Regions from separate parts of the Homo sapiens genome. Here region 1 is linked to region 2. A link means that fine-mapping ties the variant in region 2 to the expression of a gene that starts in the linked region. Tissue or cell type: tibial nerve. Region 2 holds a variant in brackets; the other region holds the start of a gene. All regions are shown on one strand. Distances are from middle to middle.

What was found. PIP is the estimated chance that this variant, and not a neighbour inherited with it, causes the effect. A credible set is the group of variants that fine-mapping cannot tell apart.
Region 1: G2E3 starts here. The variant in region 2 is the best candidate, but not a certain one, in a credible set for the expression of G2E3 in tibial nerve (GTEx, PIP 0.75).

The regions. Positions count from the first base shown.
Region 1 is chr14:30,556,982-30,561,230 of GRCh38, forward strand. It overlaps G2E3 (G2/M-phase specific E3 ubiquitin protein ligase), which reads left to right and starts at 2,177. Exons shown (of 15, transcript NM_017769.5): 1 at 2,177-2,291. It overlaps G2E3-AS1 (G2E3 antisense RNA 1), which reads right to left. Exons shown (of 4, transcript NR_151720.1): 3 at 3,756-3,854. RefSeq lists an enhancer at 1,843-2,032.
Region 2 is chr14:30,725,957-30,730,205 of GRCh38, forward strand. All of the region lies in intron 23 of SCFD1 (sec1 family domain containing 1), which reads left to right. Among named protein-coding and RNA genes, the nearest start is that of SCFD1, 110 kb to the left of the region's middle. The variant C/G (reference allele first, on the strand shown) is at 1,798.

The DNA.
Region 1 (4,249 bases), 170 kb before region 2:
GAACTCAGGGGACAAACTGAAAAAAAAAAAAAAAAACACAAAACCTTGCTCATAGAGTTGTATAAAGAAAATCATATATATATATATAATCTTTTGGGTGGCTTTTCCAGGGCATTTTTAACTTTTGTATACAGGTCAACTTGAGAATTTAATTCCTGTGAAGGATAAGAATGGTGGGAAGGTGCCAAGAATTATGAAAGACATAGGAAAATATATAACATAGTTTCTGCCTTCAAGAAACTTCAAGGAGCAATATATTTAACGGGGTCATATTAGATATGTAAACATAAAATAATACACTATATCATGAATGACAAAATGTGTGGTCAAATCATTATATGTAATTGTAGAAAGAACTGTTGAATGAATGAATGGACATAGACTATCCAAACATTAGAAATTTATACGCTCATTAAACCTGATTTTGTATCTAGAATGTATTCAATTTCTAGCAATCTTCCTTAAAGAACAAAATTGCAAAATTAAAAAAAAAGTTTATTATCTTAAAAATTCAACTGGTGATAAAGTGAAAGGTAAAAGTTCTCCATCTCTTCCTACTCTTATTTACCAGCCCGCTCCCAGAGATGTTTACAGCTTAGGTATCCATCCCAAAACTTTGTATACCATATACACACACATACTTTCAAACAAGGATACTACAGTCCTTCTTAAACTTTTTCAGTATTTCATTTCAGTACCCGCTGATCTACTTCATTACTTTTAGTGCCCGCAGCGTCAGTATATCAGATGCTAAAGTATCATAACTTACATGTATTTAACCCCTTCCTTATTTGTAGACACAGATTATTTTCTATCTTCCACTGTTAAAAACAGTACATCAGTTAATAGCTTTACACACCCCCTGTGTCAGATTACCTGTAGCATAGGTTCTCAGAAATCTAGTAAACCTTTCAAACTGTATTTTTTTTTTTTTTTTTTTTTTTTTTTTGAGACAGAGCCTCGCTCTGTCGCCCAGGCTGGAGTGCAGTGGCGCAATTTCTGCTCACTGCAAGCTCCGTCTCCCGGGTTCACACCATTCTCCTGCCTCAGCCTCCCGAGTAGCTGGGACTACAGGCGCCTGCCATCACGCCCAGCTAATTTTTTGTACATTTAGTAGAGACGGGGTTTCACCATGTTAGCCAGGATGGTCTCGATCTCCTGACCTCGTGATCCACCCGCCTCGGCCTACCAAAGTGCTGGGATTACAGGCGTGAGCCACCGCGCCCGGCCCTCAAACTGTATTTTTGACAAAGGCTAAAGGTATGCTGTCATGGTTTGGTTTGTACTGATCCGTTTAGGTAATTCAATGTTATTAGATGTGAGGATGATCTGGTGGCAACATCAATCACAGCCATAAAGGTCAGAGTTATTTAGCGCCCCTCACCCCCTAGCATTTCCAGTCCTTCCTTTAGTTTCTGGAAGCTCCCAGATGTCTCTTCAGAAGCTTAAGACGTTTTGGATCAAAGACATACTGTGGTCCTCGATAAAGGAAAAGATACTGTTGTTTCAATAATCTCACGGGACAATACTTAATAATCTCGTAAAGTGAGCCCTTATCTGAGGGGGGAAATAAAATTTATTGCCTTCTAACACCATCAAATAGTTTATTTGAGACCAGGAATTGGTCCGACCACTTATTTTCAACTTTTGGCTGAATACGGGTGAACTTGGCTTTTTGTTTTCCCTAAACCCAGGACAGAAATAAATTAAAAGCCCTGACTGTGCCGGGATAGGACTGAGAGGCCCAGGAAAGGCTGCACTAAGTACTTGGAGGGTTTGTTTTTTTCCTTCTTGCTGCTGCTGCTGTTTCCTCGAGGATGAAGGGAAAGATAAAACCCTCCTGCCTCCGTTCGTGCTTTCATTCGCCCCATTCCTCGAAGGTGACGAAACTTCAGCACATCTCTGTCCATTTTGGAAAAAAGAGGATCCCCTCAAGAGCAAATAGGCGGAAACAATGACCCCGCGCCCGGAGTTTTTCTGAGCTCCTAAATAGGGAGAGAGACCCGACAAAACAAACAAGCGAAGGCGACACAGCCAGGTTAGCACCGAGCAGCAGCGCAGGAGCGCCAGAAGGGCGGGAGCACACGGGCCCTTCCCCACAGCCAGCGCCTCCGCGGGTCCCACCCCTCGAGGGCGGGGCCGACCGCTCTTTCCGGGTTTGCGAGCGGAAGTGGACGAATTTGAATCCTGTGGGCCGTTGAATGTGGCTGCTCGCGGTCGGCGTGCCCCGACGTACAGCGGGCCGGGAAAAGTGGCACTGAGGCTCTGGAACTTCTGCCCAGCTCTCCTTGGTGAGTAAATGGGGAACGGGAAGACGCAGAACGTTCCAGAGAGAGAAGCAGGACCGTGGGGTGGGAGAGGGTGTCAGGAGGCCGGACGTCGCAGCCGGGGCCTCGCAGTGCTTTTGGGGACGTCTGGTGCTGGGGCCCGGCCTGGAGACTAAGGGAATTCGGGGCACTGGGGGCGTTTGCTGGACCAGCGCTCTCGACGGTTGCGCACGCCAGCCAGCTCTCAGTGTTGAGGATTCGGAGGCCCTGCCGGTCCCCCGCGAGTAAACCTTGTTTATACGCATCCTCCGTGGCTTTTTTTAAACCCGTAGTTTATTATTTCCACCAATTCGGCTCGAATGCTGAAATTTTAACAGTAGTTAAATCTCACTGTGAAGGCGTTGCCACGTTTAAACAAATCTCTTTTAATGAAAGATGGAAGGTTGGGGCGGGTTTAGAATGAAAAGATGCTCTACGTGGCTCCGCGTTCCTCCTGAGAGAGATACCCGGGCAACCTTGATTAACTCTGGACTGCAGGGAAGTGACAGTCTTTGAAATGCCTGAGTGGGATTTAAACTGAAATTCGAGTGTCCTTTGTATTTAAAACCCGGATATTTTTCTTTCACGGTTGACATTTTTCATGTACCGCAAAAATCCGAGACTCCTATTTAAACCGGCTGTGGTAACAGCGGTGGTGATTAACTAGGGTCTTAGTTTGCAAACAATAGGGATAAGGTTTAGTTCCACCGCCCTGCCTTTTCGCCTCCCTCATTCATTGGCCAACTGGGTTATTATGGAGTCTTTTTGGAAGTAATCCACTAATGCTTTGAGCATCTGTTTCTTTGGGTTTTATTGTTTTGGGCTTTTTTTTTTTTAATTTTTAATGATGAACTATCTGAAATATGGAACTCTGTCTAACCCAGTAGTAAAGTCATGCCTTCTGGAATGGTTTAAAAGTGTGCCATAAATGTAAACTATAAATGGGAACTTTAAATGTGTACAAGTTTTACATCTTTATTAAAAATCGTCAGTTTTGTGTAGCTTAATACGAAAAGATATTTTAAGTTCCTTTTAAGGTTTTAACACCAGGATATTGTACCATTTAAATGTATAAATATATTTTTAAAAGTAGGACTTCATAATAATCAGAATAAAAACATTCCTTCATCCAGTGCTGGCTATTCCAGCACCCCCATTCTTCCTGCTATTGAACTTTTAAGTGTTAGCCAGGAAGAATAGACTTAAATACTCGGTGTTTAGGATAGTTAAAATATGAGCATTTTTCATATAGTGTCTTTGTAACAGAGACATTGGCTATACTTCTCTAAGCCTTTCTGCTCATTTCATATGTGCTGTCAACAAATGGTAATTTTTAAAAATTGATCGCTATATCCTAATCTCTTTATTTTTTTCTACCTGAATTATTTTCATTGGATTTTTGCTCTTTCTTAAATCAGTGAGTTTCAGAATTTATTGTGTATACACTACCTTGAAGGATTTGTTCAACAATGCTGATTCCTGCACTTCAGATCTCAGATTCTGAATCAGTAGGTCTGGAGGATGGCATTGAACAGTCTGCATATTTAACTGAAAGGTTAGAAAATACTGTGAGTTTTCAAAACACTGATTTGATCTTTCCTAGAAAGGCATTATAATGTGTTGATTAAAGACATGGAACTGGGGCCAGATTGCCTTGGTTTGAAGCCCATCTCCACCACTTGATAGCTAGGTGACCCTGGGCAAGCTGTTTAACCTCTCTGCTTCATTTCCCTCTACCGTATGATGAGGTTACCTACTTTGTAGGATTATTGTGAGGATTGAATGAGTTAATATATACAAAGACCTTAAAATAGTGTGTGCCACATAGCAAATGATACATAAGTCTCCAATTACATTGAGTTACTAAACTGTAAAAACCGCATCACATACATTCTCTCATTAATCTTTACAATATCGCTGAGGTAGTTACTATCTTCAAATAA
Region 2 (4,249 bases):
TAGAACATTTCATTCAGGTTTGGCCAACAGTTAGCAACATGACTGGTTCCAGGTGTTCCCGGGGATAAACACATGGTTGCAATAGACACTTACGCATTCCACACGCTCTTACCCTTGGTTAAGCTTTTTAAATCACTTGTCATCATTCTTCTTTTGGCATCTTTTACATTATATAACAGAAAAACAAGAAGATAAACACCAAAATACTAATCATTTGTAGTTACTGAAGTAGATTATAACTTTTAAAAAAATTGCAGTTTACCAGATAATCCAGTGAAAACTTGTTCTTAATCATGTACAAGCTTGACAGTTTTACCTCTTTCTACCACAGAAAGTTGAGTTTTGTGAAATTTTATAACAATTATTAATCTAGTTATTTCTCTGATAATCTAGTCTTTTACCAGAAGACCATCTTGTAGGGATTTTAATTCAGTTTCCTTATACATTTGCTCATTCATTTGGTCATAGGATGTGTTCATATGAACCTCACCAATGATACCATTTGCACCAAGTAGCAATTACATTATGATTTAGATTGCTTACTAAATGTTTTCTCATCTTTCTCAACAAAATCAGCTCTTGCTTATATACCAAAATGTTGTAATTGACTGAGGCACCATAAGTTTCCCATAAATTCATTCTTTTTGCTCGCTCTGCCAAGATACCAGGCCATTTTCCTTGCACTACCTTGGCTTTTAATTGAGGAGCGTACTTAATCCTTCTTGAGTCTGGGTACATGTGTCTTCCCATCTTTATGTAACTGTTGAGTTTGTTTTATCATTTTTCCAGGCTGCTTGCCACCATTTCCCTTCCTCCTGAAATAACATTTCTTGTCAACAACCAGTAGGTCATTAAGTCGTCTTGCTCAGTATGTCTCTTTTCATTAAAGGCAAATCGGGCTTACCATAGGACTCATAGAACTGTGCCAGTGTTTCTGCCCAAATTGGTTTAACCATTAAATAAGTTGTTGCCATTGAGTTTTTATTGCTTGAATATAGTTTGAATATACCTTTTGGATCCAAAATCTTTCAGGAACCTTTTGAGAGATGGCGGGCGAGGGAAGACAAAAGTTTTCAGTTCCCCGAGACAGTGTCTTATGAGTAGTAATTATTCTCAGCAAAAGATCAGGGCTATAAGTGTGTAAGCCCACCTAGTTATCCTTTACTTGGTTTCAGTACTAAGAATTTTTTTAACCTTAGTGCCTTCCGCCCACAGAAACAAGGTACATAGGCATTAGAGCACATGTTACTATGAGTAGTTGGAAATGCAGCAGTTATTTTATGTCTGTGTTTCTGGACACCTTTCTTAACAAATCATAACTGCGTTTAATAGTTACGTGGTGGTCTGTGACTTCGTTGTTCAACAAAATCGTTTGTGTGCATTTCAGAGACAACGTGTCCTAATTTTGCCTCCCAAAAGTGGTTCTCTACAATAGATAAAACCAATGGGAGCCAAAAGGCAAGCATTAGAATTATTCTGTGTTTATCCTCAAGATGTTGTTATTAGCATCATCAAGATTCAGACAAAATTCTACAGATTAAATTATTAAATCTCCTGCAACCCATCTTAGACAGCTTCAAATAAAGGAGACAATTTCATCAGGTCTTATGGGCATCTGTAAATATAGCTAAGAGCATTCTCTTGCTCCCAGGCTCTTACGAGATACCAAAATAATGTTACCTTTCTTTTTTGCATTATTCATTTATTGGCTCCCTTTCTGAGAGTAAAGACTTTTCCTCCTTTCTCCTGTTGTTAGTTTTTTACCCAGACCTTGATCCCTGAGTTAGGAGACCATCA[C/G]ATTCGGCAAGAGGACTTACCTGTGGAGCTGACAGCAATGTGAGACTGGCCAGTGCTTTTCCCCTTTGTCCATTCCCAGTCACATGATGTTGAGGTGGATAACTACAAGTTTATAGGACTGTCTTGTCCACATGTGAGGAAAGATGAAAAAAAAACATTAATTCCAAGCTTAGATAGGTGAAAATAAAAACAGTCCATTCCATCATTCCTCAGACAGTTATATTTAGAGGTATTATCTTCATGTCATGTTTGCAACTGATCCGTCTTCCTGAGCTTGTAAATGTAATCCATATCCATGTTCTACATGATCAGTCAGAGAAAAAGAAAAATGTTCAGAAATATGGAGGAAATTGTTATCAGTTCCTGTGTTATTACTCCACCCCTCCCTTATTTTTCCTGAAGTATCTCTATAATCTGTTTAGTGTTGAGTCCCCCTTTAATTTCATGCCTTTTATGTTTTGACACACATTCCATCATGCAACTCTGTCTCTCATTACCACTTTGAAAAGTGTTTCAAACATTTGCTCCAATACTTTGTGTTTGGTAAGGTATATAAGTTAGTCTGTGGTAGATAATGGTTGTTAGCACATTGTTGAACTGCACCTGCAGTAAAGTGAGTTTCTTTATCAAATGATATATAAGTAGGAGGTCTAAATTGAAATTGTTTCTGCTGCGGCCTCTAATAATGTTAAAGGTGATTCCTGCAGCTAACAGGTATACACATCCAAATGAGTGTGTATTCTAGACAAGACCTGTTGCTGTCCACGTGGAACCATAGATAATGGCCACCATAATTCTGTGTGAATGTATGTTTTCACTTCTTTTAGGTATATACCTAAGAGTGGAATTGTTGCGTCACTTAGTAACTGTAATCATTTGAAGAACTACAGACTGTTTTCCAAAGCAGCTGCACCATTTTACATTCCCCCCAGCAGTGCATGAGGGTTCTCACTTCTCCACTTCATTACTAACACTTGCTTTGTTATCTATATTTTCCTGATGACTTACGAAGTCAAGAATCTTTTCACATGTGTATTGGCCATTTGTATATCTTTGGAGAAATGTCTGTTTAGATCCTTTGTCCCTTTTTTTTTTTTTTTTTTCCCCCCGAGACGGAGTCTCGTTCTGTCACCCAGGCTGGAGTGCAGTGGCGCAATTTTGGCTCACTGCAGCCTCTGCCTCCAGGGTTCAAGCGATTCTCCTGCCTCAGCCTCCCAAGTAACTGGGATTACAGGTGCACACCACCATCATCCACCTTGGCCTCCCAGAGTGTTGGGATTACAGGCTTGAACCACCACGCCTGGCCCCTTTGTCCATTTGTCCATTTTTAATTGGGTTATTTTGCCTTTTTATGATTGAGTTGTAAGAATTCTTTATGTAATATTGATACAAATCCCGTATCAGATACATGATTTCCAGATTTTTTCCCCCATTCTCTGGGTTGTCTTTTCTCTTTTTGTGATGGTGTCTTTTAAAGTGCAAAAGTTTATTTCGGCGAAGTCCAGTGTATCTCTTTTTTTCTTTTGTTGCCTGGGCTTTTCGTGGCATATCTAAGAATCCTTTGCCAAATCTAAGGTCATAAAGATTTGACCCTGAGTTTTCCTCTAAGAATTGTATAATTTTAAAATATGGTATGAAGATCCAGTTTCATCTTTTTGCATATCCAGTTGTTCCACTGCCATCTGTTGAAAAGACTATTCTTTCCCCCATGTAATGGTTTTTTGGCAACCTTGTTGAAAATCACTTGATGTGTATGGGTTTATTTCTGAACTCTCAATTCCATTATTTGGATCTATAGGTCTTTTCTTGCACCAGTATTACACTGTGTTGATCATCATGGCTTCCTTAGTATGTTTTTGAAATCAGGACACATGTGAGTCCTACTTTATTGTTTAGGCTTTTCTGGGTCTTTTGCAATTTTTTATGAATTTTAGAATTTGCAAATGTCTACAAAGACTGTGTTAAATCTCTGGATCAGTTTGGGGAGTATTTTCATCTTAATGTTAATTAAGGCTTCTGGTCCATGAATAGGGGATGTTTTCCTTTTATATCTTTAATTTCTTTCAATAATATTTTGTAGTCTTCAGAGTATATTTTTATGCTGTTACGAAAGGCATTTTTTTTTTTTAAGTTCTAGGGTGCGTGTGCACAACGTGCAGGTTTGTTACATGTGTATAAATGTGCCATGTTGGTGTGCTGCGCCCATTAACTCATCGTTTACGTTAGGTATATCTCCTAATGCTTTCTCTCCCCGCTTCCCTTACCCCACTACAGGTCCCGGTGTGTGATGTTCCCCTTCCTGTGTCCAAGTGTTCTCATTGTTCATTTCCCACCTATGAGTGAGAACATGCAGTGTTTGGTTTTTTGTTCTTGCTATAGTTTGCTGGGAATGATGGTTTCCAGCTTCATCTATGTCCCTACAAATGACATGAACTCATCCTTTTTTATGGCT